7 separate regions of the Homo sapiens genome follow, and regions 1, 2, 4, 5, 6 and 7 are each reported to be linked to region 3. The links are microRNA targets in miRTarBase. Many come from high-throughput screens and were not tested one by one. Region 3 holds a microRNA gene; each other region holds the end of a gene's coding sequence.
What was found. Region 3 holds the annotated microRNA hsa-miR-6844 (UUCUUUGUUUUUAAUUCACAG, at 2,239-2,259, opposite strand). A microRNA usually pairs through its seed, bases 2 to 8, with sites in the 3' UTR of a target mRNA and lowers its output. Matches are read on the target gene's strand: a 7mer-m8 pairs with bases 2 to 8, a 7mer-A1 pairs with bases 2 to 7 and ends in A, and an 8mer does both.

Region 1 (4,068 bases), not on the chromosome of region 3:
AATTTCTTCAAACATCATCTGTCCATCTATCCATTCACCCATCCATCCAAGCACTCATTCCATCAACAACATTATTGTGCATCTACCATGTGCCAGGCGCTGTGCTAAACACATGAAGTCTTTGCCTTTATGGAGTTTACAGTCTAATGAGGGAGTGAGACAGTAAATGGACTACTAAGTGAATATGAATTCAGGAAAGTTCCATAAAGGTCAGGGTGCTACAGTGGAAAGTCTCAGGGCGAGGAACTTAGGGTGAACAGAACAGAGAACCTGACTGAAGAGGAAGCATCTGAGACTTGGTGAGCGGGACCCAGGCCCAGGAAGGCACAGGAAAGAACATCTGCCAAAGCCCTATGGCATGAAAGAGCATGGTGTGCAAGCCGTCCCCAGAAAGGCCATTTGTCTGAAGCACTGGGAGCTAGAGGAGTGGCCTGAGATCACGTTAGAGTCACCATAGTTTGAGTTTTTAAAAGATGCTCCTGGTGGCTTCTTAGAGAATGACTGAAGAGGGGTAAGAATGGAGGTAGGAGCCTCTAAAAGCTCTTGTGGTTGTCCAGGCAAGAGATTCTGGTGGCTTAGGACCACAGTAGTGGAGGTGGAGAGGGGAAGAAATGGATGTATTTGAGCTATATCTTGGAAGAACTGATAATACTTGCTGATAGACTGGAGATGAAGAGTGAGGGAGAGGGTAGAACTGAGGGAAATGCCTGGATTTCTGACTTGAGCTACTGGCACTGAGAAGAACTTGAAGAGGGAGCTGGTTAAGTGGGATATGATAAAAGTTACTGCTCAGGGCATGTTTAAGAAGACATCTGTGAGAAAAGTCAAGACGGGAGTTTGCTACAGCAGTCTGGAGGTAGAGACCAGTGCTGGGATGTAAATGTGATGATATATTATGTATGTATATATGTATGTACTTTGAAACAGGGTCTCACTCTGTCATCCAAGCTTCAGTGCAGTGGCCCAATCACGGCTCACTGCAGCCTCAACCTCCTGGGCTCAAACAATCCTCCCACCTCAGCCTCCTGAGCAGCTGGCACTACAGGCACATGCCATCACACCCAGCTCATTTTTCTGGTTTTTTGTTTTGTACAGATGTGGTCTCACTATGTTGCCCAGACTGGTCTTGAAGTCGTGGGCTCATGTGATCCTCTGGCCTTGGCCTCCAAAGTGCTGGGATTACAGGCATGAGCCACTGCACCCAGCCAAATGTAATGGTATTTAGAATCATAGAAAGAAATCGCCACAAATCCAAAAACCAATCCCAAGAAACTCACAGCAGTGGAGCAGCTGCCCAAGAAGATGAAAAAGAATGGCCTGAGAGGCAGTGGAAAAGCAGAGACATGAACAGAAGTCAGTTCAAGGAGGAGTGGTCAACTGGGTCATGTTTTGGAGAAGTCAAATAAGGTGAAGACAGAAAGATCTCCACTAGTTCTGGCAATATGAACATAAAGGGTGGCATGAGCAAGAGAACTGTGGCTTAAGTGGTGGCAGCCAAGTAAGATTAGAGTGAAGAATGAATGAACCACTCATAAAGTCCTTAAGAAAACTAAGAATAGAAGGAAACTTCCTGACCTTGATAAAGCATTATCTATCAGAAACCTACTGTAAGCATCAACTTAGTGAGGAACGAATATGAGCATTACCACATTTTATTTCCTCCAGTACTGCGCCAGTGGTCTCAGCACAAGGCAAAAAGGCAATAAAAATAAATGAGATACTATCTGCATGATTCAAATTAATAAAAGGGTTCCACAAGCTGGCTAGATATATAATATCCAAAAGCTATTCATTAGCAATAATCAAATGTAAAAGAAAATAGGAAAAAGGTCTCAGTTGGATAACAAAACTACACAAGACCTTTATGGGGAAAAGCGATAAACCTTTACCAAGGCCTGTGCCAGGAGATGCCCTGGGAAGCGGATTGCTTCAGCTATTGGCGACAATTCCTTCTTCATCTGGAAATTCATAGGCTTGATAAACTATCACTAGTGTTTCTAGAAGATGGTAACATGTGACCTTGGTCATTTCATCCCAGAGAAAGTTTATTATAAGTTACAACAAACGAAGAATATGTAAAAAACAAAATGTTCTGCAAAACATTGTTTTATTATGAGAAATTATACAGGGCTCTTACTTTTTAATATTTTTATGACAGTAGAGGAAGCCTGCTGCTTCTCAGTAAGGATCCCAAACAATAAAAGCTGGACTTGCCTGTTGCCACTAGTCCATTATCCCAAACCGTGGGTAGGCCGCTTGTCATCTGCCTCTCTATGACAGAAAGGGGGATGTATGTGCCACTTCAGCTTTTTAATCAAATGAAGGAAACCATATAAGCAAAGGGTTGAGGAAACAGTGTAGGTACTTATGATACTATTATTTAACATCTAGTATTATTTAACATCTATTATTCAGTGAGCCATGACTGTGCCACTGCAATTCTGCCTGGGTGACAGAGCAAGATGCTATCTCAAAAAAAAAAAAAAAAGGCCGGGTGCAGTGGCTCACGCCTGTAATCCCAGCACTTCTTTGGGAGGCCGAGGCGGGTGGATCACGAGGTCAGGAGATCGAGACCATCCTGGCTAACACGGTGAAACCCCATCTCTACTAAAAATACAAAAAATTAGCCGGGCGTAGTGGCAGGCGCCTGTAGTCCCAGCTACTGGGGAGGCTGAGGCAGGAGAATGGCATGAACCCAGGAGGCGGAGCTTGCAGTAAGCTGAGATCGCGCCACTGCACTCCAGCCTGGAGGACAGAGCGAGACTCTGTCTCAAAAAAAAAAAAAAAAATTTCCCCCCAATAAATGTATAACCCATAAATTCAATTTAATCTTAATTAAAATTTCCAGTGGCTCTTTGATGAAGTTAACAAGAATAGGGCCTTGCCCTACTAGATATCCAGTCTTAGAACAGACAAATAAAGCAATGGAAGTGTTGTGGGGGCATTTTAAAGGGAGAAAATAAAGGATGAAAGATGGCCTTTAAGCTGGGAAGAAGGAAGTAAGGTTTATACACACAGCAGAATATTATTCAGCCTTTAAAAAGAAGGAAATTCTGACACATGCTACACCATAAGGTGGATGAATCTTGAGAACATTATATAAAGTAAAGTAAAATAAGCCAGTCACGAAAGGACAGATATTTATAATTTCACTTATGAGGTACCTCGAGTCATCAAATTTATAGAAACAAAATACACTGGTGGTTGTCAGGGGATGGGGGATGGGAGAATCAGGAGTTATTGTTTCCATGTGTGGTGACTGAAAAAGTTCTGTTGATAAAAAGTGGGGATGTTTGTATAAAAATGTGAATGTACTTAATACCAGTGAATTGTACGCTAAAAAAGGGTTAAGATGGTAAAGTTTATGTAATGTGTATCTTATCACAATTTAAAATTTTTAAAAATATAAATGACAGGAAAATATTAACTGAAGTTAAGGCAACATTTATTTGATTTCCTTATAATCATATTATCTAAGGCAGAAGTGGTGGTTACTTGGCAAGAATACGATTTCTTTTAATGTCTTCTATAGTTGAGTTTTAGCTCAGAAATACATCATATTTCACTGGTTCAAATCTGAGAGAATGTACTTCTAGCATGGGCTCCTATTCATGATCAATGCATTTTTGTGTCACCATGGCTTGATCAAACTTAATCACTGTTTCAATGGCAGGGCATGGCCAGTTGTGGCAGCTGCTCTGAAGGTCACTTGTTTTACTGTGGCCTGGCCAAGTAGAGTAAGGATGGGTCACAGTGAGCTCACTGGTCTCTTCAGGCTGTGCTCTGAATGATGACAGCAATACCTTGGCCACCTCCAATGCAAGCTGATCCAACGGCATATTTTCCACCTCGACGCCTGAAAAAGAAAGCAGTGACTGAAATCTACTCTAATAAAAAATCAGATTAATGAAATAGAACTAATAACATCACATCTGCATTACTCATCCTTATTCAGCTCATCTGCTCAATCTTTTCCCCAGTCCTCAATTTTGGTATAATTACAACAGGCAACAGACTTTGGAAAGCTGAAAGTTTTTAATCAAAAAAAACAAAAAACAAAGAACAAAA
Region 2 (4,055 bases), not on the chromosome of region 3:
TGGCTCACTGCCATCTCCACCTCCCAGGTTCAACCAGTTCTGCCTCAGCCTCCTAAGTAGGTGGGATTACAAGTGCACGCCTCCATGCCTAGCTAATTTTTTTTTTTTTTTGAGACGGAGTTTTGCTCTTGTTGCCCAGGCTGGAGTGCGATGGCGCGATCTCAGCTCACCACAACCTCTGCCTCCCAGGTTCAAGCGATTCTTCTGCCTTGGCCTCCCTAGTAGCTGGGATTACAGGCATGTGCCACTATGCCCGGCTAATTTTGTATTTTTAGTAGAGAAGGGGTTTCTCCATGTTGGTCAGGCAGGTCTCGAACTCCTGACCGCAGGTGATCTGCCCGCCTCGGCCTCCCAAAGTGCTGGGATTATAGGCATGAGCCACTGCGCCTGGCCTATTTTTGTGTTTTTAGTAGAGATGGGGGGTTTCACCATGTTGGCCAGGCTGGTCTGAAACTCCTGACCTTAAGTGATCCACCCATCTCGGCCTCCCAAAATGCTAGAATTACAGGCATGAGCCGCTGCGCCCGGCCTTAACAATATTTCTTTGGAAAGTAAATGCAATGGCATTGTGGTAGTTACTTATACAGCTGGGGTCTTCAACTATTATATACTTTTAAATGAAGATGAATATTAGATACCTCAAATTAGTCAAGGAATTATACTGATTTTTTTTTCTTCCTTTCCTCAGGTCAAAGAGTTTTTGAGTACTTTGTGATCTTGCTGAAGACTACAGGCAGCCAAATGGTTCCAGATACTTCAGCTTTGTGTATCTTCGTAACTTCATATTAATATAAGTTTCTTTAGAAAACCCAAGTTTTTAATCGTTTTTGTTTTAAGGAAAAAAGATTTTTAAAATGAATCTTATGCAAAACTTTTTGACCAGTTTCTTTTCTTTTGTTTTTTTTTTAAAAAAGACATTTAAAGACAAAGACATTATTTCTCATAGCAGGAAATGTAGAGGTAGATGGTTCCAGTATCAGCATAGTGACTAAACTACATTATAAAAGATCCAGCTTCCTTCTGTCATTCCCCTCTTTTGTCTTCCTCAGCAGGTTGGCTTTTTTCCCTGGTGCCTCTCACTTCGTTGGTGACCAGTTTCTTAAACTGAAAGCTTTAATGTTACATAGTAAATGGTAGTGTGTCCTGTGTAAATTAGTGTACCTATTAAAAGTTGCAAAGTGGAATTAAAGGAATCCCTAGAATAAGGATTCTGAAGTTTTATTTTAAATTATTATCTTCTTAACAGTTTAGTCCCACCTCTTACTTCCTGCCTCAGTCTGCTTTCTCTACTGTCTGGATTAATTAGGCAGCCTGCTATAAAGTTAAAGTCACACATTTCTATTTTGCAAACACTGTGATTACTCTTTGCTTTGTAGTTTGCTTTGCTTTGTAGGGTTCTGCTTTTAAGTTTTTCTCTTTTTCAGACAAATTACTGATAAAAATGATATTGCTCTATATGTAATATATCCTGAAAGCATTATTTTTTGTTGAATAGGAAATAAAATTAATGAAGACAGAGGCTAGAAAGCATCCATTAATTAATGAGACACACTTAACTACTTATCTCTAAACCATCTATGTGAATATTTGTAAAAATAATGAATGGACTCATCTTAGTTCTGTATATAAATATATTTTCTTTCTAGTTTGTTTAGTTAAGGTGTGCAGTGTTTTTCCTGTGTATTAAACCTTTCCATTTTACGTTTTAGAAAATTTTATGTATTTTAAAATAAGGGGAAGAGTCATTTTCACTTTTAAACTACTATTTTTCTTTCCAAGTCATTTTTGTTTTTGGTTTCTTATTCAAAGATGATAATTTAGTGGATTAACCAGTCCAGACGCACTGATCTTTGCAAAGGAGACTTAATTTCAAATCTGTAATTACCATACATAAACTGTCTCATTATACGTATGCATTTTTTTAGTTTGTTTTTGTTTGGTATAAATTAATTTGTTAATTAAATATTTCTTAAGTATAAACCTTATGAACTACAGTGGAGCTACACTCATTGAAATGTAATTTCAGTTCTAAAAAGATGTAATAATCATTTTAGAATTAAAATTTATTCTACTTTTAAATAAATTATGAATATTAAAGGTGAAAATTGTATAAATTACTTTGATTCCATTTTAAGTGGAGACATATTTCAGTGATTTTTAGTAACCTTTAAAAATGTATAATGACTTTTAAAATTTGTAGAATTGAAAAGACGCTAATAAAAATTTATTATTTATTTGTCATGACTCAAAAGTTGTCTCAGTGTGGTGGTCATAATAGAATTGAGCCTAATGGTGGTCTGGATTATCTCTTGGATCTATTACCTATATCATGTCTTCCATTAGAATTTATTTATTGCTCTTTATAGTTTGCTCTCCTAGAAAGGTAATTAATAATACAAGACTTATTTTTCTCATCCAGAATTTTCTCTTCTGCTATGCCTAAAACTTGAAACTTATACCGAGCCACCTAGAACTTAAGTCTGTCATATGTTAAAGAACAGAGTTGTAAAATGTTTCTAAAATAGAGATATAGATGTTATTGCCTTTGAAAAATGCTAGATACATTGCAACATTAAGTCTGGTAAATAATAGCCTTCTTCATTTGACTAACTTACCTCTTCTTTTAATTTTTTTTTTTTTTTTGTTTTGAGAGAGGGTCTTGTTCTGTTGCCTAGGCCGGAGTACAGTGGCGCAGTTATAGTTTACTGTAGTCTTAAACTCCTGGGCTCAAGCAATACTGCCTCAGCCACTTAAGTAGCTGGGACTACAGGGCTTTCACCACCATGATGGCTAATTTTTTAAAATTATTTTTTGTATAGATGGGGTATTGTTGTCCAGTCTGGTCTCAAACTCCTGGGCTCAAGTGATCATCCTGCCTTGGCCTCCCAAAGCGCTGGGATTACAGGCACGAGCCATTGTGCCCTGCGCTAAAAGCTTTTTTTGAAATAGCTTTAGACTCATAAAAGTTGCAAGAATATTACAGAGTTCCTGTTTACCTGTCACTCAGTTATTTCCCAATGATAACTTTATTTAACAATAATATTTTATCAAAACAATTAAATTTGGTGTACTACTATTAACTAAACTACAGACCTAATTTGGATTTTACCAGTTTTATGTCTTACTTTAATTCATAAACTTTAAAGCATCTTTGGCTGGCTCTTTTTTCGGACTCAGCCCGCCTGCACCCAGATGAAATAGCCTTGTTGCTCACACAAAGCCTGTTTGGTGGTTTCTTCACACGGACGCGAGAGACATTTGGTGCCAAAGACCCGAGTCAGAGGGACTCCTTCGGGAGACCAGTCCCCTGTTCTCACCCTCACTCTGTGAAGAGATGCACCTACCACCTTGGGTCCTCAGACCAACCAGCCCAAGGAACATCTCACCAATTTCAAATCCGGTAAGCGGTCTTTTCACTCTCTTCTCCAGCCTGTCTCGTCAATCTCCCTGTCCTTCCAATTCCAGTTCTTTTTCCTCTCTAGTAGAGACAAAGGAGACACATTTTATCCATGGACCCAAAACTCCGGCGCCGGTCATGGACTCAGGAAGACAGTCTTCCCTTGGTGTTTAATCACTGTGGGGACGCCTGACTGATTATTCACCCACATTTCATTGGTGTCTGATCACTGCAGGGAGCCTGCCTTGGTGATTCACCCACATTCCCTTGGTGGCAAGTCAATTGCGGGGACGTCTGCTTTGGTTGCTCACCCACATTGCAGCCCCGGGCTGCTCGCCCACCCCCTTCCCCGTGTCTCTACCTTTCTCTTTAAACTTACCTCCTTCACTATGGGCAACCTTCCGCCCTCCATTCCCCCTTCTCCCTTAGCCTGTGTTCTCAAGAACTTAAAACCTCTTCAACTCACACCTGACCTAAAACTTAAATGCCTTATTTTCTTCTGCAGTACCACTTGGCTCCAATACAAACTCAACAGTAGTTCCAGGTGGCCGGAGAATGGCACTTTCAATTTGTCTATCCTACAAGATCTAGATAATTTTTGTTGAAAAATGGGCAAATGGTCTGAGGTGCCTGATGTCTAGGCATTCTTTTACACATT
Region 3 (4,068 bases):
GTGAGCCAAGATCGTGCTATTGCACTCCAGCCTGGGTGACAGAGCAAGGCTCTGTCTCAAAAAAAAAAAAAAAAAAAAAAGAAAAAGAAAAAAAGAAAAGAAATAAAGCAAATGGGCTGAGAGGTAGAGTCTGAAGGTTAGGATAAATACCACTAATAATCCCAACGGCATTAGTTAAAACTAAAACCCCTCTCAATTCTTAAGTACAGTTCCTACAGGATAAATTACAGAGTAAGTAAAAACAGGAAAAAATTACAGAGTTAGTACAAACAGGAAAAAAGTGCACAGTAATATTAACATTACAGCAATGCAGGATGCATACATATTACTAGTAGTATAGATGAGGCAGAGGTTGAACTTAGAGAATACGCATAAAACTGTCAACGTCAGGCCGCATGGGAATGCAAGTGCTTGGTGCTATTTCCTCTTTCCTTAGCAGGCATAGTGTAACTGTGATTTAATCTACCTGGATTACAGTTCTTTTGCTAGACACAGTCACTCACTGAGTCACTCTCCTGAAATTGCATATGAATATATGTATATCTGAGCATTTTTCTAAGGCAGGTTTCCAAAGGAGTCCATGATCGAAGAGACTAAAAATCATGGCTGGGCAAGGTGGCTCATGCCTGTAATCCTAGCACTTTGGGAGGCTGATGGGGGGAGGATCATGAGGTCAAGAGATCGAGACCATCCTGGCCAACATGGTGAAACCCCGTCTCTACTAAAAATACAAAAATTAGCTGGACGTGGTGGTGTGCACCTGTAGTCCCAGGTACTTGGGAGGCTGAGGCAGGAGAATTGCTTGAACCCAGGTGACGGAGGTTGCAGTGAGCTGAGATTGTGCCACTCCACTCCAGCCTGGTGACAGAGCGAGACTCCATCTCAAAAAAAAAAAAATCACTGCCATAGATATCGGAGGTATGTGGTTAGCAGATAGTATTTATGGGAAATGTCTCCAGAATAATGACTAAAATGGCTATATCAGAGAAGTGTTTAGTGCAGAATGCAAATTACAGAAAGGAGAATGACTCTCTAGATCAGAATAGTAGGTGAATACAGCGGACAAGAAATGAGAAAGGCAAACCTAAAACAAATGGTAAAATATTTCAAAACATAAAAATTAGTTTATATTTGCTCAAAATTTGGATGGAAGAACATTAAAGAACAGCTGACAGAAGAGACGAAGAATATCATGCACAGCATTAGGATGTGTAGAATTCAAGGGCCAGGCACAGTGGCTCACACCTGTAATCCCAACACTTTGGGAAGCCAGGGTGGGCAGATTGCTTGAGTTTAGGAGTTCGAGATCAGCCTAGGCAACATAGTAAAACTTCATCTCTACAAAATATACAAAAAAATTAGCTGGCCATGGTGGCACATGCCTGTAGTCCCAGCTACTTGGGAGGCTGAGGATGGCTTGATCCCGGGGAAGCAGAGGTTGCAGTGAGCTGAGATTGTGCCACTGCACTTCAGCCTGGATGACAGAGCCAGACCCTTTCTTAATAACCAAAAAAAAAAAAAAACAAAAAACACACACAAAAAACAAAAAAAATTTCACAGGGTTTTCTTGTGAATGGAATTCTGTACGCATTCTTGTACTTTGAACAAAGGAACTGTAATTAAAACTGATTTGTGTTTATGCCACACCTGGTCCATAAATTCAACAGTAAATTTACATGTCTTTCAAAGGATGGGAAAAGAAGCTCCTAATTCTATTGAATTCTATCTAATTCCTATGTTTTTCTTTGTTATTCCTTTTTAAAAAAAATTTAAATGTTGACATCTGAATTAGGGGCCATCCTTAATAACCAAGATGCTTTGTGTGTCACATAAATGTTAAGTATCCCTTATCCCAAGTGTGTGGGACCAAAAGTGTTTCATATTTCAGATTTTTTCAGATTTTGGAATATCTGCATATACATAAAAAGAAATCTTTGGGAAGGGACTCAAGTCTAAACATGAAATTCATTTATGTTTCACATACACCTTATACCACACCCTGAAGGTAAATATTTTAAATAATTTTGTGCGTGAAACAAAATTTGTGTACAATGAATAATCAGAAAGCAAAGGTGTCATTATCTCATGCCAGTGCTTAAAAAGGTTCAGATTTTGGAGCATTTTGTACTTGGGAGTATTTTGGATTTTTGGATTAGAGATGTTCAACCTGTATTAAAAATGACTATTTTATACTTACCACTCCCCCTACACACCGATCTCTATTTCTTTTCATTATGTCTGTGAATTAAAAACAAAGAACTTTTAGCAAATAGCTTGATTTCTACAAAATTCTTAAGTTCTGAATGAGACTTTGGTTTTAACTCACCCAAAAATTCAGCATGTGAGTTTCGACAATGAAGAAACATTGGTAATTTTGTTTGTTCTGACAGTTCAAACTGTTTTTCAAAATATCTGCATAATGCAAAAAAAAAAAATTCTCATTACAAATTGTATTTTAGCATGAGGAAGGTAATGATGTCAAAAGAGCTTTTAAATTAAAGGTATTTAATTCTCTAGAAATTACAGGACAAAAATCATGAATATTTAAAGCACATCAGGCTTATCAAAGGGCTTTTATAACTTACAACTTCTGGAAAGAAATACTTCATTTTCTGGGCTTACAAAATTATCTGGGCCCTTTAATTTTCAGAAAGTAACACCACTGGCCCCTTGCCACTGGGAGCACCATCAGTGGGAGTCAACTCACCAAGCGAGAAGCCCAGGAGAGCTTCATACTGCATGCTAATCTATTCCATTTTGCAACCAGTTTTTTATGTGCTGTTATAAAAGAAGTTATTGCCACTGGGCAAAATGAACAAGGTTTCCCTCAAAAATGAAATCTAAGTATTTGCTAAACAGCAAATAACTCAATTATGCTATTAAAAAAAGAAAATTACATGATAAAGTGGTAGCCCTGAATATCTTAAAGAGTACTTGATAAGAAGGTTTTTCCAAGTACCAGATACCATTGTCTCATTTGATCCTCAAAATAACCTGAGTATAAAAGCTGGTGTCAGAGAGGTGTAGTACTTTGTCCAAGATAACAATACCTGGCATGGCCAACTTGGAACAGAACTTCACTGCTCTAATTCCAAGTCCCAGCCTAAACGACAAAAACCTGTTACGTTTTCAAGAAGCTTCCTTCTGGTCCCGGAGTATAATGACAATATTCAGAGGATACAACGAATGTTCATTCTGTTTGTCTTTTCACTTCAACACAGTGCTCCCCCTTGTTCTCACAAATGGTAGGTTCAACTGAATCAGGATAACAGGTGGCTTATTATTTTCTTAAATGTGCTTACCTCTTCTAAGCACTTTAATTTGGGGAAACAATTTCTCTGTTTAACTTAAGCCTCTCTTGCTATATTTTTCTATATCATATTTCCTGATGTGCAGGACTATTTTACCCCCTTTGCTCTCTTGAAAATGCTAAATTTTAAAATTAGAAATAGAAATGTACTTCTTAAGAAGCAGTCTTCAGGCCGGGCGTGGTGGCTCACACCTGTAATGCCAGCACTTTGGGAGGCCAAGGCGGGTGGATCACTCAAGGGCAGGAGTTCAAGACCAGCCTGGCCAGCATGGTGAAACCTCGTCTCTACTAAATATACAAAAATTAGCCGGCATGTTGGCACATGCCTGTAATCCCAGCTATTCGGCAGGCATGAGAATCTCTTGAACCCAGGGTCAGAGGTTGCAGTGAGCTGAGATTGTACCACTGCACTCCAGCCTGGGTGAGAGAGCAACATTCTGTCTCAAAAAAAAAAAAAAAAATTAAAAATTAAAAAAATAGAAATAGTCTTCCTAAAATAGGTCGTCTATGTCTGTATTACCAAATGTTTGGGTTTTAAAATCTCCTTTTCAGATTCTGCTGGGTTAGAATAAGCAAAAATATTTTCCTTTCATTAACAAAGTGCTGAAATTTTGCAGTGTAGGAAATATTAACGACAACTTGGACAAAAAGAGATTTTGATAATATAACCAGTCACTATTTCCATAACCTCTAAAGTAAACCAAATGTCAGCAGTTAAGTGTGCACTAGTCATTATGTCAACTTTACTAATATATTTG
Region 4 (4,068 bases), not on the chromosome of region 3:
TATCAACCAAAGCACCCTGCCCTCACAGCAGAACCGTTTCCCAGACTACCTTGAAGCCATTCCTGGGACAAATGTGGACCTTGGAACACTGGAAGGAGATGGAATGAACATAGAAGGAGAGGAGCTGATGCCAAGTCTGCAGGAAGCTTTGAGTTCTGACATCCTTAATGACATGGAGTCTGTTTTGGCTGCCACCAAGCTAGATAAAGAAAGCTTTCTTACATGGTTATAGAGCCCTCAGGCAGACTGAATTCTAAATCTGTGAAGGATCTAAGGAGACACATGCACCGGAAATTTCCATAAGCCAGTTGCAGTTTTCAGGCTAATACAGAAAAAGATGAACAAACGTCCAGCAAGATACTTTAATCCTCTATTTTGCTCTTCCTTGTCCATTGCTGCTGTTAATGTATTGCTGACCTCTTTCACAGTTGGCTCTAAAGAATCAAAAGAAAAAAACTTTTTATTTCTTTTGCTATTAAAACTACTGTTCATTTTGGGGGCTGGGGGAAGTGAGCCTGTTTGGATGATGGATGCCATTCCTTTTGCCCAGTTAAATGTTCACCAATCATTTTAACTAAATACTCAGACTTAGAAGTCAGATGCTTCATGTCACAGCATTTAGTTTGTTCAACAGTTGTTTCTTCAGCTTCCTTTGTCCAGTGGAAAAACATGATTTACTGGTCTGACAAGCCAAAAATGTTATATCTGATATTAAATACTTAATGCTGATTTGAAGAGATAGCTGAAACCAAGGCTGAAGACTGTTTTACTTTCAGTATTTTCTTTTCCTCCTAGTGCTATCATTAGTCACATAATGACCTTGATTTTATTTTAGGAGCTTATAAGGCATGAGACAATTTCCATATAAATATATTAATTATTGCCACATACTCTAATATAGATTTTGGTGGATAATTTTGTGGGTGTGCATTTTGTTCTGTTTTGTTGGGTTTTTTGTTTTTTTTGTTTTTGGCAGGGTCGGTGGGGGGGTTGGTTGGTTGGTTGGTTTTGTCGGAACCTAGGCAAATGACCATATTAGTGAATCTGTTAATAGTTGTAGCTTGGGATGGTTATTGTAGTTGTTTTGGTAAAATCTTCATTTCCTGGTTTTTTTTACCACCTTATTTAAATCTCGATTATCTGCTCTCTCTTTTATATACATACACACACCCAAACATAACATTTATAATAGTGTGGTAGTGGAATGTATCCTTTTTTAGGTTTCCCTGCTTTCCAGTTAATTTTTAAAATGGTAGCGCTTTGTATGCATTTAGAATACATGACTAGTAGTTTATATTTCACTGGTAGTTTAAATCTGGTTGGGGCAGTCTGCAGATGTTTGAAGTAGTTTAGTGTTCTAGAAAGAGCTATTACTGTGGATAGTGCCTAGGGGAGTGCTCCACGCCCTCTGGGCATACGGTAGATATTATCTGATGAATTGGAAAGGAGCAAACCAGAAATGGCTTTATTTTCTCCCTTGGACTAATTTTTAAGTCTCGATTGGAATTCAGTGAGTAGGTTCATAATGTGCATGACAGAAATAAGCTTTATAGTGGTTTACCTTCATTTAGCTTTGGAAGTTTTCTTTGCCTTAGTTTTGGAAGTAAATTCTAGTTTGTAGTTCTCATTTGTAATGAACACATTAACGACTAGATTAAAATATTGCCTTCAAGATTGTTCTTACTTACAAGACTTGCTCCTACTTCTATGCTGAAAATTGACCCTGGATAGAATACTATAAGGTTTTGAGTTAGCTGGAAAAGTGATCAGATTAATAAATGTATATTGGTAGTTGAATTTAGCAAAGAAATAGAGATAATCATGATTATACCTTTATTTTTACAGGAAGAGATGATGTAACTAGAGTATGTGTCTACAGGAGTAATAATGGTTTCCAAAGAGTATTTTTTAAAGGAACAAAACGAGCATGAATTAACTCTTCAATATAAGCTATGAAGTAATAGTTGGTTGTGAATTAAAGTGGCACCAGCTAGCACCTCTGTGTTTTAAGGGTCTTTCAATGTTTCTAGAATAAGCCCTTATTTTCAAGGGTTCATAACAGGCATAAAATCTCTTCTCCTGGCAAAAGCTGCTATGAAAAGCCTCAGCTTGGGAAGATAGATTTTTTTCCCCCCAATTACAAAATCTAAGTATTTTGGCCCTTCAATTTGGAGGAGGGCAAAAGTTGGAAGTAAGAAGTTTTATTTTAAGTACTTTCAGTGCTCAAAAAAATGCAATCACTGTGTTGTATATAATAGTTCATAGGTTGATCACTCATAATAATTGACTCTAAGGCTTTTATTAAGAAAACAGCAGAAAGATTAAATCTTGAATTAAGTCTGGGGGGAAATGGCCACTGCAGATGGAGTTTTAGAGTAGTAATGAAATTCTACCTAGAATGCAAAATTGGGTATATGAATTACATAGCATGTTGTTGGGATTTTTTTTAATGTGCAGAAGATCAAAGCTACTTGGAAGGAGTGCCTATAATTTGCCAGTAGCCACAGATTAAGATTATATCTTATATATCAGCAGATTAGCTTTAGCTTAGGGGGAGGGTGGGAAAGTTTGGGGGGGGGGTTGTGAAGATTTAGGGGGACCTTGATAGAGAACTTTATAAACTTCTTTCTCTTTAATAAAGACTTGTCTTACACCGTGCTGCCATTAAAGGCAGCTGTTCTAGAGTTTCAGTCACCTAAGTACACCCACAAAACAATATGAATATGGAGATCTTCCTTTACCCCTCAACTTTAATTTGCCCAGTTATACCTCAGTGTTGTAGCAGTACTGTGATACCTGGCACAGTGCTTTGATCTTACGATGCCCTCTGTACTGACCTGAAGGAGACCTAAGAGTCCTTTCCCTTTTTGAGTTTGAATCATAGCCTTGATGTGGTCTCTTGTTTTATGTCCTTGTTCCTAATGTAAAAGTGCTTAACTGCTTCTTGGTTGTATTGGGTAGCATTGGGATAAGATTTTAACTGGGTATTCTTGAATTGCTTTTACAATAAACCAATTTTATAATCTTTAAATTTATCAACTTTTTACATTTGTGTTATTTTCAGTCAGGGCTTCTTAGATCTACTTATGGTTGATGGAGCACATTGATTTGGAGTTTCAGATCTTCCAAAGCACTATTTGTTGTAATAACTTTTCTAAATGTAGTGCCTTTAAAGGAAAAATGAACACAGGGAAGTGACTTTGCTACAAATAATGTTGCTGTGTTAAGTATTCATATTAAATACATGCCTTCTATATGGAACATGGCAGAAAGACTGAAAAATAACAGTAATTAATTGTGTAATTCAGAATTCATACCAATCAGTGTTGAAACTCAAACATTGCAAAAGTGGGTGGCAATATTCAGTGCTTAACACTTTTCTAGCGTTGGTACATCTGAGAAATGAGTGCTCAGGTGGATTTTATCCTCGCAAGCATGTTGTTATAAGAATTGTGGGTGTGCCTATCATAACAATTGTTTTCTGTATCTTGAAAAAGTATTCTCCACATTTTAAATGTTTTATATTAGAGAATTCTTTAATGCACACTTGTCAAATATATATATATAGTACCAATGTTACCTTTTTATTTTTTGTTTTAGATGTAAGAGCATGCTCATATGTTAGGTACTTACATAAATTGTTACATTATTTTTTCTTATGTAATACCTTTTTGTTTGTTTATGTGGTTCAAATATATTCTTTCCTTAAACTCTTCTTTGTTGTTTTTAACAATTGATATTTGAAACTTTTTTTTTTTTTGGCTTCTTACTGGTCTTCCAATAGAACAAGAACTGGCAATAAAAGGTGATTACAGTAGTAACTGGGAAGACAAGTTAAACTTAAGTTTCGTTGTGCTTTAAGTTAGGCTTGACATTTGGAACTTTTGAAGTATGGATATATAATTCTTTTAACTTTGTGTTCTTACTCTTCACATACACCATCCTCATCCGTGGTAGTGTCTAAGCAGAACTGCGTCTGCTTGATTCTTAAATGACTTCACTACATGTGACGGCACAGAGGACACTGAGAACATAAGAACATGGCACTGTCTTTCAGAATGGCCTTTG
Region 5 (4,068 bases), not on the chromosome of region 3:
GCAGCAGCCAGGTCTGCCCTCGGTGGGGGGTGGGGGGGGGGGAGGCGGGGCTCTGCAGGCCGGGCTGGGGCTGCCTCCAGGGAGAGGACCCTGGAGGCTGGGGACAAGCCTGGGGGAGACAAACCAGTACTTTCTACCACATACCCTGGTGTGCTTTTAATCCTTGTATGACATGCACATTACTTAAGATTTGAAAAGCTGGTTGGAGGCCAGGCACGGTGGCTCACACCTGTAATCCCAGCACTTTGGGAGGCCAAAGCAAGCGGATCACTTGAGGTCAGTGAGATTGAGACCAGCCTGGCCAACATGGTGCAACCCCATCTCTACTAAAAATACAAAAATTAGCCAAGTGTGATGGCACGTGCCTGTAATCCCAGCTACTTGGGAATCTGAGGCATGAGAATTGTTTGAACCGGGGAGGCGGAGGTTGCAGTGAGCGGAGATCGCACCATTGCACTCCAGCCTAGATGACAGAACGAAACTCCATTTCAAAAAAAAAAAAAAAAAAAGTCTGGTTGGAGACACTATATATAGCTAGACCCCTATTTCTGCTGGTACGTATATGCACCCACACACATGCACACAGCACACAGCACACATGGAGGGGCTGGGAGGGAAGCATCCAACTGTTCACATTGGGATTGTGGGAGTGAGGGGACTGGTGGGTAACACTGAGGTTTTATATCGTTTTAAGTTATTTAAGCTTTTACTAGCCTGTAACAACTGAAAAAGTGTGTTTTACACCCTAAAGGTGCAGCTGAGGACCTGTGCCCATGCCTGGCCCCCAGGGACTATTCTCAGAGCTCACCCGCGGTGTGAGCCTGGGGCAAGTTTCCAGACCCAACACACCAGGCTCTGGCCTCAGGCCTGCCTCCCAGCAGCCTCTGCCCCCACCCTGCCCACCACCAGTCTGAAGGAAGAGGCGCGGAGTCGTGGGGAAAACATCCACTTTAAGCTTTATTACAACACATTGTCTCCAAATACAAAGGGAGGGGCCGGGAGCAGAAGGTGCGGCTGTGGCGGGAGGGGCTCCAAGGGGGGCTGAAGGGCCGGCAGCCCAGTCTACAGAGACTGGAGGCTCAGCGGGGGACCTGCACCCTCTCCTCCGCTGGACTTCCCAGCAAATAACAGGAGGGGCCGGGTCCATTTTGGGGCGATCCCAATGCCAGGCAGTGGCCAGGTGGGAGGGGCCGGAGAGAGGCTTGGAGAGGACTCAGGGCTGGGTCAGGTGAAAGCCACCAGGTGGGGCCCTGGCCCGCCTCCCGCAGCACTGGAGGAGGCAGTGGCCAGGTGGGAGGGGCCGGAGAGAGGCTTGGAGAGGACTCAGGGCTGGGTCAGGTGAAAGCCACCAGGTGGGGCCTCAGCCCGCCTCCTGCAGCACTGGAGGAGGCAGTGGCCAACACAGGACCTTCGCCCCCCTGCTGGCTGCTCACTTTGCGGTAACCAGTGCCTCAAGAGTGGGAGCAGAGACAGACTGAGACAGACAGCCCCCCTCAACGGCCTGCAGAAGGGACAAGGGGAAGGGGGAAGGGAGAAGGGGGCCCAACCAGTGGCCCCAGACCACTGTCTCCCGGACAGCACAGGGGTGGGGGGCGAGAAGCGGGAAGCCAGTGCATCCTCCTCACCCAGGGTCTCCTCAGAAACCCAACGCAACAGACATATGGGAGGCAAATTTACATAATTAATAATAATTAACCAATAATAATAAATACTTAAACCTCTAATCCATAGATTGCAAATACAACGATAGCTTATTTTCTTGGGGGAACAGGAGTGGGTGGGGACAGAGGGAACGGGAACAGGACTTTTGCTGAAAGGAGGGATGACAGGAACACAGAGCTGTGGGTGAAAAGAAGAACAAATAGAAGAAACAGCAGAGAGGGCGGCTGGCTGGGGCGGGATGGGCGCCTCCCTGGCCCTGCTCCAGGACTCAGGACTGGGTCCTGCCCTGGGCTGCCTCTCCGGCCAAGCCCCTGGCCTCTTCCCACAGTGACTGGCCCCACTCCTAGACCCTAGGACATCTGAAGGGCAGGGGTCCCAATGGCCCGAGGGGGTATGGGGCAGGGGCAGCAGGCTGACCCACCTGGGCCCAAAAGCCACTTGTGTTTGGGGGCTGGCATGCCACCTAGAGAGAGAGCACCCTGGGAAAGGGGTGAATGGGAGTTTCTCTCCTGAGCGGCCCCATGGGGGTGGGGGCAAACGAGGGGGCTTTACCTGTCTTGAGGCAGTGCTCCCTAAGTGAAGCAGGCCTATCCCAGCAGCACAGGGGCTTGGCTGGCGCCTGAACTCCCTGTGTGAGCAGCACCTGCTCACAGAGCCCCTCAGCCTGCAGGTGCACACCTGAATTCCAAGTTCTGCCTGGGGCATGGCTGGGAGGGGGGCGGGGCAGACCTGGAACAGAACCCTAAGACCACCCCCTCCTCATACCTGGGGGTCCAGGGCTTCCTGCCCAGTGGAGCCAGCACTGGCTAGCCAGGCGCCTCCTGCCTGACCCCCGGAGGCCAAGCTCCTCTCCTGCAATGGTGCCACCCTGCCCGGCAGGCAGCTCTGGGGGCATGGGCAAGGGAGAAGGGAGGGCCGCAGCCCTCTAGGAATGGCCTTTCTGAGCCACTCTGTGGCTGGACTGGGGCTCTGGCAGGAGTTGGGGGCACTAACACCTCTGTCCTCCCCTGGGCTGCACCTCATCTGACGTTCCAGAACCCCCTGCCCGAAGCCCCTACACACACTGTTCTATTTCTCAGCCCCTCTGAACACCCTGGCACCATGAAGCCCAATGCCTGTCCTCCCCTGCCAGAGAACAGCTCTGGGGCAACGGGCAGCGGGGTGCCCTCCTTGCCACCAAGATTTGGTGCCTGGAGCTGATGGAGGGCTGGCCGCACCTCTCCGGGGCACACCAGCTCCTGCTCCTCCATCCTATGGCTTTGGTGCAGAGCCCTAGGCCGGCGCAGAGAAGGGAGGGAGCAGGGGAGGTGGGTGGGGGGAGAAGGGGGGTTCTGCGGCTCAGTTTGTGGCAAAGAAGTTTTTTTTTCCTTTTTTTCACCTTTTTGTTATGTAAAAAGTGCACGAAAGCTCGGCAGCCTTTGCAAAGGTCAGCAGTGTTTCCTGGGGCGGGGGAACTGGGAGGGGCCCCAGGCCTGGCACCCAGCTTGCGACTGAAGGTGGCCTCGTATTGCTTAGAAACGTATGTTTCAGTTTAAATACCAGACAGTAAAAATAGAGCTCGAGGACCACCCGCACTGTTGCCAAATCATTGCCAGAATGAACAGCTTAAATAAATAAAAAATCGAAATATTTACTTCTCGATAAAAATCCCAGTAAAACCATTTACCTTTCTTTGCATTATATATAATATACATTTATAACGGGCCTGGCTGCGGGCGGCGGGGCCGAGGGCAGCGGAGGGGTCAGGACACCTCGATGACCTCCACGCTGCCCGAGAAGCTCGCCTGCTTGCCCAGGGCGGCCAGCTCCTCGCCGCGCGCGCGCCCCTCCACCATGCCCTCCTCGAACTCCATCTGGCAGCTGCGGCGCTTGAACTGCGTCTCCGGGGCCGGCTCCTCGGGCCAGCCGGTCCGCGCGTCCCGGGGCTCAGCCCTCGCTGCCTCCCGCCGCCGCAGGTCGCTGCCGCCGCCTGGTCCCGGGGCGCCCGCCCGGCCGAAGGGCGCAAACAGCACCCCGCCCGCCCCCTGTGCGCCCTCGGGGCTGAAGCACCAGGGCCCGTCGGGCGACGGCGTGCCTGGGGAGTCGAGCGGCGGTGCCCAGGCCCCGGGGCCGGCCGGCTGGCCAGGGCCGGGCAGCCCGGGCGCCGACAGGGCCGAGAGGCCGTGCCGCGGAGTCTGCCGGGCCGCATCGCCGAAGTTCAGGCCGAGGCTGTGCGCGGGGGAGCGCGCGGGGGAGCCGGCGGGGGGCCGGGGCCGCCGGCGGGGCCGTGGGCGCGCCTCAGGCGCGGCGTCCGGGCTGTCCGGGCTGGGCGAGGACAGGCCCAGCGCGGCCCCCGACGGGCTGTCCAGCTTGCAGAGCTTCGGGGCCTCGCCGGGGTCGGGGGGCCCGGGGCCGTCGGGCCGCCTG
Region 6 (4,063 bases), not on the chromosome of region 3:
GGATGATCACAGGCCCCCAAAGATTCTTTTTCAAGAAGGCCACATAAAGTCTTGCATTTCTCATTCTTTCCTCCCAAGTTCGTGAGTTTTCACTACAGCTGTGGGACTGGGGGACACTGGGAAAGGACTTTCACCAACCATGAACAAGAAGAAGGGGTTGAGGTAAAGTTGGGTGATTTCAGTCTGGAGTTCTCTTTGGCTCCTAAGTGCCACATATCAGTCCGAGGGTTTGCCATAGAAGTGAGGGGTATAATTTTGTTTCAGCACCAAATCAGCATGGTTTGTGTGAGTTTTAAGTAACAACTGGTCAGAGGAGTAACAACAAATGGTCATGGACATCAATGATATGGTTAGAAAGTTCAAGCAGAAATTTTAAAAAGGGTGCCTGAATCTTTATTCACTACAAAATAAATGGACCTCTGGGCCTCTCATTAGGCGACTTGGGTGGTGTCCAGTTCTCCCTGGAGGTAATTAAGCTTTTAACCTTCTTTTCTTTTGTAAGGGTCGGGGGATCTTGTGAGAATACTGGAGGAACTCTAGACCTGCATTGTCCAATTGGCAGCCACTAGCCACATGTGACTATCCAAATTGAGAGGTGCTGTGAGTGTAAAAGACACAATGGATTTAGAAGACTTAGTACACAAAAGCATGTAAAACATGTCATTAATTTACATTAGTGACATGTTGAAACAATATTAGGTTAAAGTACATGATTAAAATTATCTTTACCTGTTTCTTTTTACACTTTAAAATGTGGCTAGTAGAAAATTTAAAATTATGTCTGTGACTTGCATTACGTTTCTGTTGGACAGTGCTAGTCTAGACTCTTGCTATAGAAAAATGCACATCTGCAAATACACATACAGTCTGCATTTGCTTCTAGAGGGTACACACACCCTCTGACACTCATCTGTAGACTACCAGGTCTCCAGGTCAGTCTCTTCTTTGGGGGAGGTAAAGAAGGCTATAAGGAAGGGCTGTTCCCCTTTCTTCTGAAAGAGAAACTTTCTGGTTAAGCTTTTTTTTTTTCTTTTTTTTTTTTTTTTTAAACTATCAAAGCTACAGGAAAATCCTCCAGAAACAAACTTTGGTAAGTAGTGAATGGCAAAGGCTCAGGGGGTTTGCAGCAGGACCTCCTTGGGGTCAGATCTGCCAGCCTCGGGTTGGCCTTTCAGACCCCTCATCGTCTATGAGGCATCCTGTAAGTGCAGCTGTGGCCAGGGCTTGCATATGCAATCAATTCCTGATTCACCTAGTTCTTGGCAGGAAGAGAAAATACTCGTTAATCAGAGGACTAAACAATCCAAAGCGCATTCTCTCTCTGGGAATGGAATATAATTTATATTTCTGTTGCTATTGAATTATCCTTCTAATTCCACTGGACTAAACTTAATACCAGTAATACTAAAATTTGTTTTGGGCAAAGCCGACTGAAGGAGGAGTCAGTGGCGCAAGCCTATGCTGACTGTGAAAAATAAACACCTCTGAGATCAAGAATCCCACAGTGAGAGCTAGGATTTGAAGGTATCCAGAGATTGCAAACTCTGTGACTAACAGCAATTTTTAAACAAGGCAAAACAAACCAACTCCTACTTGGACTTAAAACTTCAATCATTTAGATTTTCATTCTCAGCACCATAGTTGTGCCAAGTCTCAAAGGCTGTTATTACATGATACATGTCAAGTAACTCTACCTCCCCAAGCTACGAAGCCTGATTGCCACAAGTCATAGCTATCTGCAAAAATGGATCCTGCCTCTGAAAGACTCATCTGTGGTCCCACAGCCAGAGGAGCTTGGGGACTCATGTTATTAAACCCTTCACATTATAGATGAAGAAGCCGAGGCTTAGTAAAGCGTGTGGTTCATCTAGGATTCTCGATTCAGAGCTCTCTTCATTCCTCCCTGCCTCTTTTCCCACACATAGAGAGTGGATTTCATTACAGGAAGCATTGGACTCCTAGGGAGATGCAACCTTTCTGAGGGTAATAATCATCTGCCTTGCCTTACTGTCTACTTACAAACCATCAAATAGGAAATTGGTAAAGGTGGTGAAAAAGGAGCAGCTAGTATTCTCCGTTGACCTGCACACCATGTTTCAGCAGGCGGCAAGGATTTACAGCAGAACCAAACTCTTTTTGAATGAGTATTAGTCTAATGAGGTGGAAAAGTCCCCATCAATACATAAAAACAACTCAGTGAGAAAAGCTTTCTTTCCTGGTTAATCCAAGCCGCAGCCTGGTGTTTGCCAGCTGTGTAGAGATAAGGTGATCCGTCTGATTGTTCAGAGACGCTATCAATGACCTTAGTCATCTCTGTATCTGGATAGTCTGAATATATTACAAAATTGCCCACTGAAAAAATAGCACATTTCTGTCATAGTTACAAAAGATGAATAAAAACAGAAACAGTTTAAAAACACCATTGGGTTTCAGTATTTACTTGATACCTCTTTTCCTTTCCCTCTTACTTTGTCTATTTCAGTCAGGATAAACGATCTAGCAAATTCTCATGCTGCATACTTTTTGGTTCAAATGATACAGCAAATCACACCTCATTCCTCACTTGGTATCTGGACACACTCAGGGAGCCCTGGGAAGCAATCTGCTAGGGATTCACCTAAATCCTCCCACATGGTCTGGTGAGATTCAACAGAAGTGTGTCGAAATTAAGGTAAAAGCTAGGTGCTACTGCAGCCCCCACTATGTTTGCCATTGGACTTAAAAATGATTGGCTTTTCTCTAAAGCCTCCATTTTTTACAGAACCCACTTACAGAGGTAAGAAAAAAACTGTTCTAGCCCAGGGGAAACCAATGCAACTGGCATTTTGTTTTCAATAGGAAGAAAATGTGGTATCTGGTTTTAAAACCAGCCCTACAACCACCAAAGACTGGATGCCTTGGAGGGGACTTCTGAGTTCAGAATTTCAGCCAAAGACTGTAAGACCCAGAAGAATGAAACGGCTTCCCTAGAGCTCCCTTCTCATGTCACGTGGGCCCTTAATCAAGCCCGGCAAGTGGAAGCAAGTGTGATGTGGCTTAAAATAACCAGCAGTGGCCTCAGCAGATTTAGGGCTTAGTGTTGGGGTCTCTGGCAGCTGGGGTTTTTAAAGGCCCACTTAGAAGAACTTAGATTCTTAATGAAAGCTGGCCTTAGTCCATTTCAGGGTGCTGAGGCACTTCTCAAAGCCATGCACACTTCATGCTGGGAGGTCAAGACCACATATCTCAGAGATGGAATACAAACTGATCATAGCAGGAACTGGTGCTTCTAAACAGAAACCTATACAAAAGCTGGAGTGCATCAAAGGAAAAACAAAGGAATAGATGGAAAGTAAACTACAAATAATCTTTAAAAAAATTGCCAAAGAAATCAAACAACATGCCAAAAACAAGAATGATGAGACATGGAAAGAATTGAAATGAAACTAAGAAATCCTAAAGGTGGCCTTTCAGTCTCTGTTTTAGGAGCTTCTGAAGTGTATGTCTACATGGACATAGGAGTGGAAATCAGCTTTCAACTTCCCAGCTGCCAAGGCCACAGACTGCCATACCGATGGAGAAACTGCATCCTGATTGACAAGACTTTGGATATTGCTTTTCGTCAGCATTCTTGAACGGAGCGCCCTGGAGTTGCCAAGGTGATCTGGAGGTGTGTGTGTGCCTGGTCCAAGTCTTGGAGCACTCTTCCCTTCCTTTCCCTTGGGTCCTACTATCTCTTTGCTTCTGGATTTGTCGTTTCAAGATTTCACTTCTTCACAGTCCTGGTCAGTGGAAAGTTCTACATCAGACAGTCCAACCTCCATTGCCATGATCAAGGAAATGTCAGAATCACTGCTTACAGCTGGCTCCTGCTCACCTGGGAGGAGAAAGCAAAGTTCACAGTGAACACCGAGCTATGTCTTTGCATGCTGCTTATTTCAGTACAATTGCTTGTAATAACATTTCTTTAAAGGCCAAGAGAAGGTATTAGAAAAATTGGGTATTCTGTAAAAACTCTAGTTAAAGCCTCATCTCACATGGGCCAAAAAGTTAAATGCAAACAAAAGAAACTAGAATAATAAAA
Region 7 (4,055 bases), not on the chromosome of region 3:
TTCTGAAATGGAAGTAATGTGTTGGAGGGCAACCCAAAAGGACAGTTGCGAAATTATGAATGAGAAATTAAAGTAAAACCAAATCAAAATATTTATACATTTTAGAGATGGGACAAAAAGGATATTAAGAAAAATGTCTTCTTTCCTCCCCATTCAAAAGCAGCCATTCTTCTACTGTGAAAGAAACTGACATGGATATTTTCCCTTTCAAGAGATGTATGATATATTTACCCACTGTGAGGCAGAGGTGATAGGGTCAGTTCTTGTTTGCAGGAACCAACATCCTAAAAAAGAAAATGTCAAGATGGGGAGGGGTGGGAAAGAAGGGTTTTCTATTAATGTCATGGAATATGCCACTGTAGAGGCAGAACACTCCTAATAATAACATTCACCAGATTACTACTGCTGTTTTTTTCAGACTAAGAAAATACTGACAAAATTGGATTTTTTTCTCCTTTCAATTGCAGGATATTCTGATTATTTAAAGTTAGGGAATCCCTTTTTTATCCCCCCACCCAATAAAATGGGCCAATTTGTAGGGATATATGCAAATAAAATGTTCTCTGTTTAAAATACTTACCTGGTTTAATATAACACATTTATCTGGCCAATAAGAGCAACAGAAATGTAGCTGTTATGAAGACTAAAAAAATACAAAAACCAAAGCTGAAGCTTTGTCATCCCTCCCCACTAACTCCCACTCCAATTCTTTACTACCCACATACTAATCTCAGTAATCCCCAAGTCCAACATTTTACCATTAATAACCAATTATTTGGAGGAAAAAGACATTTAATTTTATATTTGCTCTAGCCCTTAATCAATGCATAACAACAAAAACATTTTTAAGCACATGGAAATGAGCCTACTAACCTGATTTTTGGAGCCCAAATTCTCCACTCTATTTTGATCTATGTGCAAAAAGTATTGGTACTTTTCAATTTATACATTTGTTAGTATCTTGTGGCTGGCTTCATAGTATAAGACTCACTCTTAAGCCTACTATAGAGCCTACAGCACTATCAGAAGTTTTCAATTAATAGCTATGGATCAGAAAATCCTGCGATCAGTTTCTCATACCATAAAATCCTAGGCTTCTTTACCATTGATTTCACCTTTCGAGCACAGTCACTGCATGGCAAATGTATGAAACAGACGTTTACAGCAAATAAGTACCAGTATGTACAGGAAGCTGCCAGTTAAGACAGACCCGGAAAACAAACTCACCTAGCTGCTATAGAAACCTTTGCATAGTTGTTACTCCGTTTTAATAGGAGTTATGTTCTTGTAAAATGTGCCTCACTTTTACTCCACTTTTTAAAAAGTGTTTTTAAACTGTACTTCAGAAGCACTCTGAAAACTCAGATCTAGGGGTGGTTAGGTGAAGTAGAGTAGAATCTGAGTGCCAAATTGCCCCTGAATGGGCACAAATCTGAGTGTTACAAATGCACCGTAGCACACTGTAACCAAATTTGTAAACAGCTGTGGAGTTTCTATGCCCACATTTAGTGATGTTACCATAGAGACTGGGGTGTATTAACGGCTTCAGGGTATACATGAATCACTTAAAATATGAATGGTTTTTAACTATACTGAGGTAAAGAGAAGTTGCCACTTAATTACATACAGTTACCAATGAAGATTTTTATTCAAGCTTAAAGTAAAAAGTAATTTTAGTTAAGAAAAATGAAGTACCAGATAAACTGTAACATATATTTTAACTTAGAAGTATCAAAACAGGAATTTTTTGATTCTCTAAGTGGTGGTCTCTGCAAAATGGAGCTTGAAGAAATCTTTTACATACCAATTTGATAAGAGTCTGCTGACCACGATCTGTCATTTTCTTTACTATGGGCTTCTGGGAGAATGCATGCTATTTTAAGGCCAAATGTGTTTTTCTTTCTTCTCCCCTTCCCTGACTTTTCCCTTTCTCCCATCCCCGACCACCTACCCCACAATGGAAGAATTTTTGACATCCAAGCCCTCTTCTCTTTGTGGATTCTGGAGTCTATTCATGATCATAATTATATTATAGACTTGGCTACACCTAAAGGGGAACTTAGTACAAGACTTTTTCTTCACCAGAATCTTATTTTGGGGGTATCCCCATTCTCATTCCAACAGCTGGAGTCACCCTATTTATCCTCTACTGAAAAAGGGAGGGAATTTCAAGGGAGACTATGTTATGTTGTATTCAGCTGTTACGGAGTTTAAAAGCACAATGTGAACATCAGGCTTTTGGCTTATTTTAAATGTGAAATTCTCAAAATTAAAAGTGCTTTTCCATGAAGGAAACCTTTCCTTAAACTAAAACAGGAGGGGAGAGGGAAAGACTATCCACAGCACCAGTTTAGAATGAGGTTCAGTATGGCAATATCTGAAAAAACTGAGAAAAAATATTCTTTAAATTTATGTATCCCTATATGTCAAAATATTAAGGGCAATTAAGAAAAATGACTATGAGGTTTTAATCCCAGTTTAAGTATGTCTGTAACCTGCTGAATTCTTCTAATAATTTCAATTATACTATAAACTTCCAAAGTGGTTGTATCGCTGATTCCTACTCTTTTGCTAGATCACACCAAAATTACTTCCTAAGTTGAGAACAACTTGGAACAAGCTTTACTGAAAACCAACTGACTACTGATGTCTCATGTTGGTGTATTTAAAATTCTTTTTGAATCTTGAATTTCTTCAAGATCGGGTACTGATGTTCCTTCAGGAATAAAACAAAAGGGGGGAAATCTTCAAAGCATTACTCTGAATTTCTTGTGTAATGTCCTTCCAAGCACTGTTTCTGACCATGTCTCATGTGGTATTCCAGAAGAGCATCAGTTATACTGTGTATCTAAGTCATTGAGGAAACTGTTTTTAAGCTGGTTTAGATTCCAAATGTATACAAATGAAGTCACTTTAATCCTATAAATACTTCTTAATTTATTTTTAAAAAATTGTGCTGTTAACCCTTTTACGGGGCAACAAGCTATGTGAAAAGTACAAAACTTTTTGTCAAATGTAATATTGAGAGTGCTTTTGACATAGTTCACTGGTTTATCATCTGGATCAGTATATACTGCGCAACGGGCAAGGCTAGAATCCATGAACCAAGCTGCAAAGATCTCAAGCTAAATAAGGCGGAAAGATTTGGAGAAACAAAAGAAGGAAATTCTTTCCTATCCAATGTATACTCTTCAGACTAATGCACTCTTTCTATCAAGCCTTCTAAACTGTTAAATAAAGTTTTCCAAACAAGCATTTAAACTTCATTACACAGAAGAGCAACAAGAATGGTATCCTGCCAGACAAAAGACAGGAAGGAAAAAAATATATATACTGAGTTCAATGGGTAAGCCTGAATGTAGCACAGTTCTTCACAACCGATGGGGGAATAATTCAACATGGTGTCCAACAACGTTCTAACGACGTGCTTCATCTCAACTGGTTACTATGAAGCAAGGTGTAAATGTTTGGCCCCAATCGGGCTTCAGAAATGGTTCTTTTTTCATGACGAGCATGTCTGTCCAGCTATCAATCATGTTTGTTTGCACCAAATCCCAAGCCATTAAAATACGACTAATTTTAAGTTAAACAGAAGTCGTCTGCTCCAAATTCACCATCAACTATCCATGCTACTGCATTCCTCTGAATGAAGACAAGATGAAATGTATGGGGGGCGGGCGGGGGAGGGAAGAGGGGAAGGAGAGAAAAAAATTACCAGTTAGAAAGTTTCAAAATTAGCATTATGACATTACAAAATTATACTAACATTAAAAAATCAAAGCAAATTCTTGAAACTTTCATCATACTCATTAAAACAATGTCTGTATCATGTCTTAGACCATATATTATGATCTAAATTCATGATTTTGAATACTGAAGAAACCCAAGTGAATAATCATGTTAGAATCTCATGCTTTTATTTTTTTGAGACAGGATCCCACTCTGCTGCTCAGGCTGGTGATGTAATTTGGGCTCACTGCAACCTCTGCCTCCTTGGCTCAAGTGATCCTTCCACCTCTGCTTCCTGAGTAGCCAGGACTACAGGCACATGCCAC

Region 1: miRTarBase lists ACAA2 as a target of hsa-miR-6844. Seed matches in the 3' UTR shown: 7mer-A1 at 2,526-2,532.
Region 2: miRTarBase lists DCK as a target of hsa-miR-6844. Seed matches in the 3' UTR shown: 7mer-m8 at 925-931.
Region 4: the mRNA of YAP1 is a reported target of hsa-miR-6844. Seed matches in the 3' UTR shown: 7mer-A1 at 1,803-1,809.
Region 5: miRTarBase lists DUSP8 as a target of hsa-miR-6844. Seed matches in the 3' UTR shown: 7mer-A1 at 3,331-3,337.
Region 6: miRTarBase lists RNF150 as a target of hsa-miR-6844. Seed matches in the 3' UTR shown: 7mer-A1 at 942-948.
Region 7: miRTarBase lists WDR26 as a target of hsa-miR-6844. Seed matches in the 3' UTR shown: 7mer-m8 at 1,990-1,996.

Annotation. Positions count from the first base shown.
Region 1 is chr18:49,780,076-49,784,143 of GRCh38, forward strand. ACAA2 (acetyl-CoA acyltransferase 2) reads right to left here. Exons shown (of 10, transcript NM_006111.3): 10 at 2,089-3,856. The coding sequence ends at 3,772. Among named protein-coding and RNA genes, the nearest start is that of ACAA2, 31 kb to the right of the region's middle.
Region 2 is chr4:71,028,664-71,032,718 of GRCh38, forward strand. It overlaps DCK (deoxycytidine kinase), which reads left to right. Exons shown (of 7, transcript NM_000788.3): 7 at 689-2,251. The coding sequence ends at 715. Among named protein-coding and RNA genes, the nearest start is that of DCK, 37 kb to the left of the region's middle. RefSeq lists an enhancer at 115-615.
Region 3 is chr8:124,506,277-124,510,344 of GRCh38, forward strand. MIR6844 (microRNA 6844) reads right to left here and starts at 2,300; the gene lies at 2,239-2,300. TATDN1 (TatD DNase domain containing 1) reads right to left here. Exons shown (of 12, transcript NM_032026.4): 7 at 2,327-2,412; 8 at 2,198-2,238.
Region 4 is chr11:102,229,709-102,233,776 of GRCh38, forward strand. YAP1 (Yes1 associated transcriptional regulator) reads left to right here. Exons shown (of 9, transcript NM_001130145.3): 9 at 1-3,716. The coding sequence ends at 232. Among named protein-coding and RNA genes, the nearest start is that of BIRC3, 86 kb to the right of the region's middle.
Region 5 is chr11:1,553,114-1,557,181 of GRCh38, forward strand. DUSP8 (dual specificity phosphatase 8) reads right to left here. Exons shown (of 7, transcript NM_004420.3): 7 at 938-4,068. The coding sequence ends at 3,405. LOC124902608 reads right to left here and starts at 2,367. Exons shown (of 2, transcript XM_047427956.1): 1 at 1,836-2,367; 2 at 1,494-1,567. The coding sequence starts at 2,367. The coding sequence ends at 1,494. RefSeq lists an enhancer at 2,254-3,051.
Region 6 is chr4:140,864,524-140,868,586 of GRCh38, forward strand. RNF150 (ring finger protein 150) reads right to left here. Exons shown (of 7, transcript NM_020724.2): 7 at 1-3,856. The coding sequence ends at 3,738. Among named protein-coding and RNA genes, the nearest start is that of TBC1D9, 110 kb to the left of the region's middle.
Region 7 is chr1:224,386,219-224,390,273 of GRCh38, forward strand. WDR26 (WD repeat domain 26) reads right to left here. Exons shown (of 14, transcript NM_001379403.1): 14 at 1-3,642. The coding sequence ends at 3,617. Among named protein-coding and RNA genes, the nearest start is that of MIR4742, 10 kb to the right of the region's middle.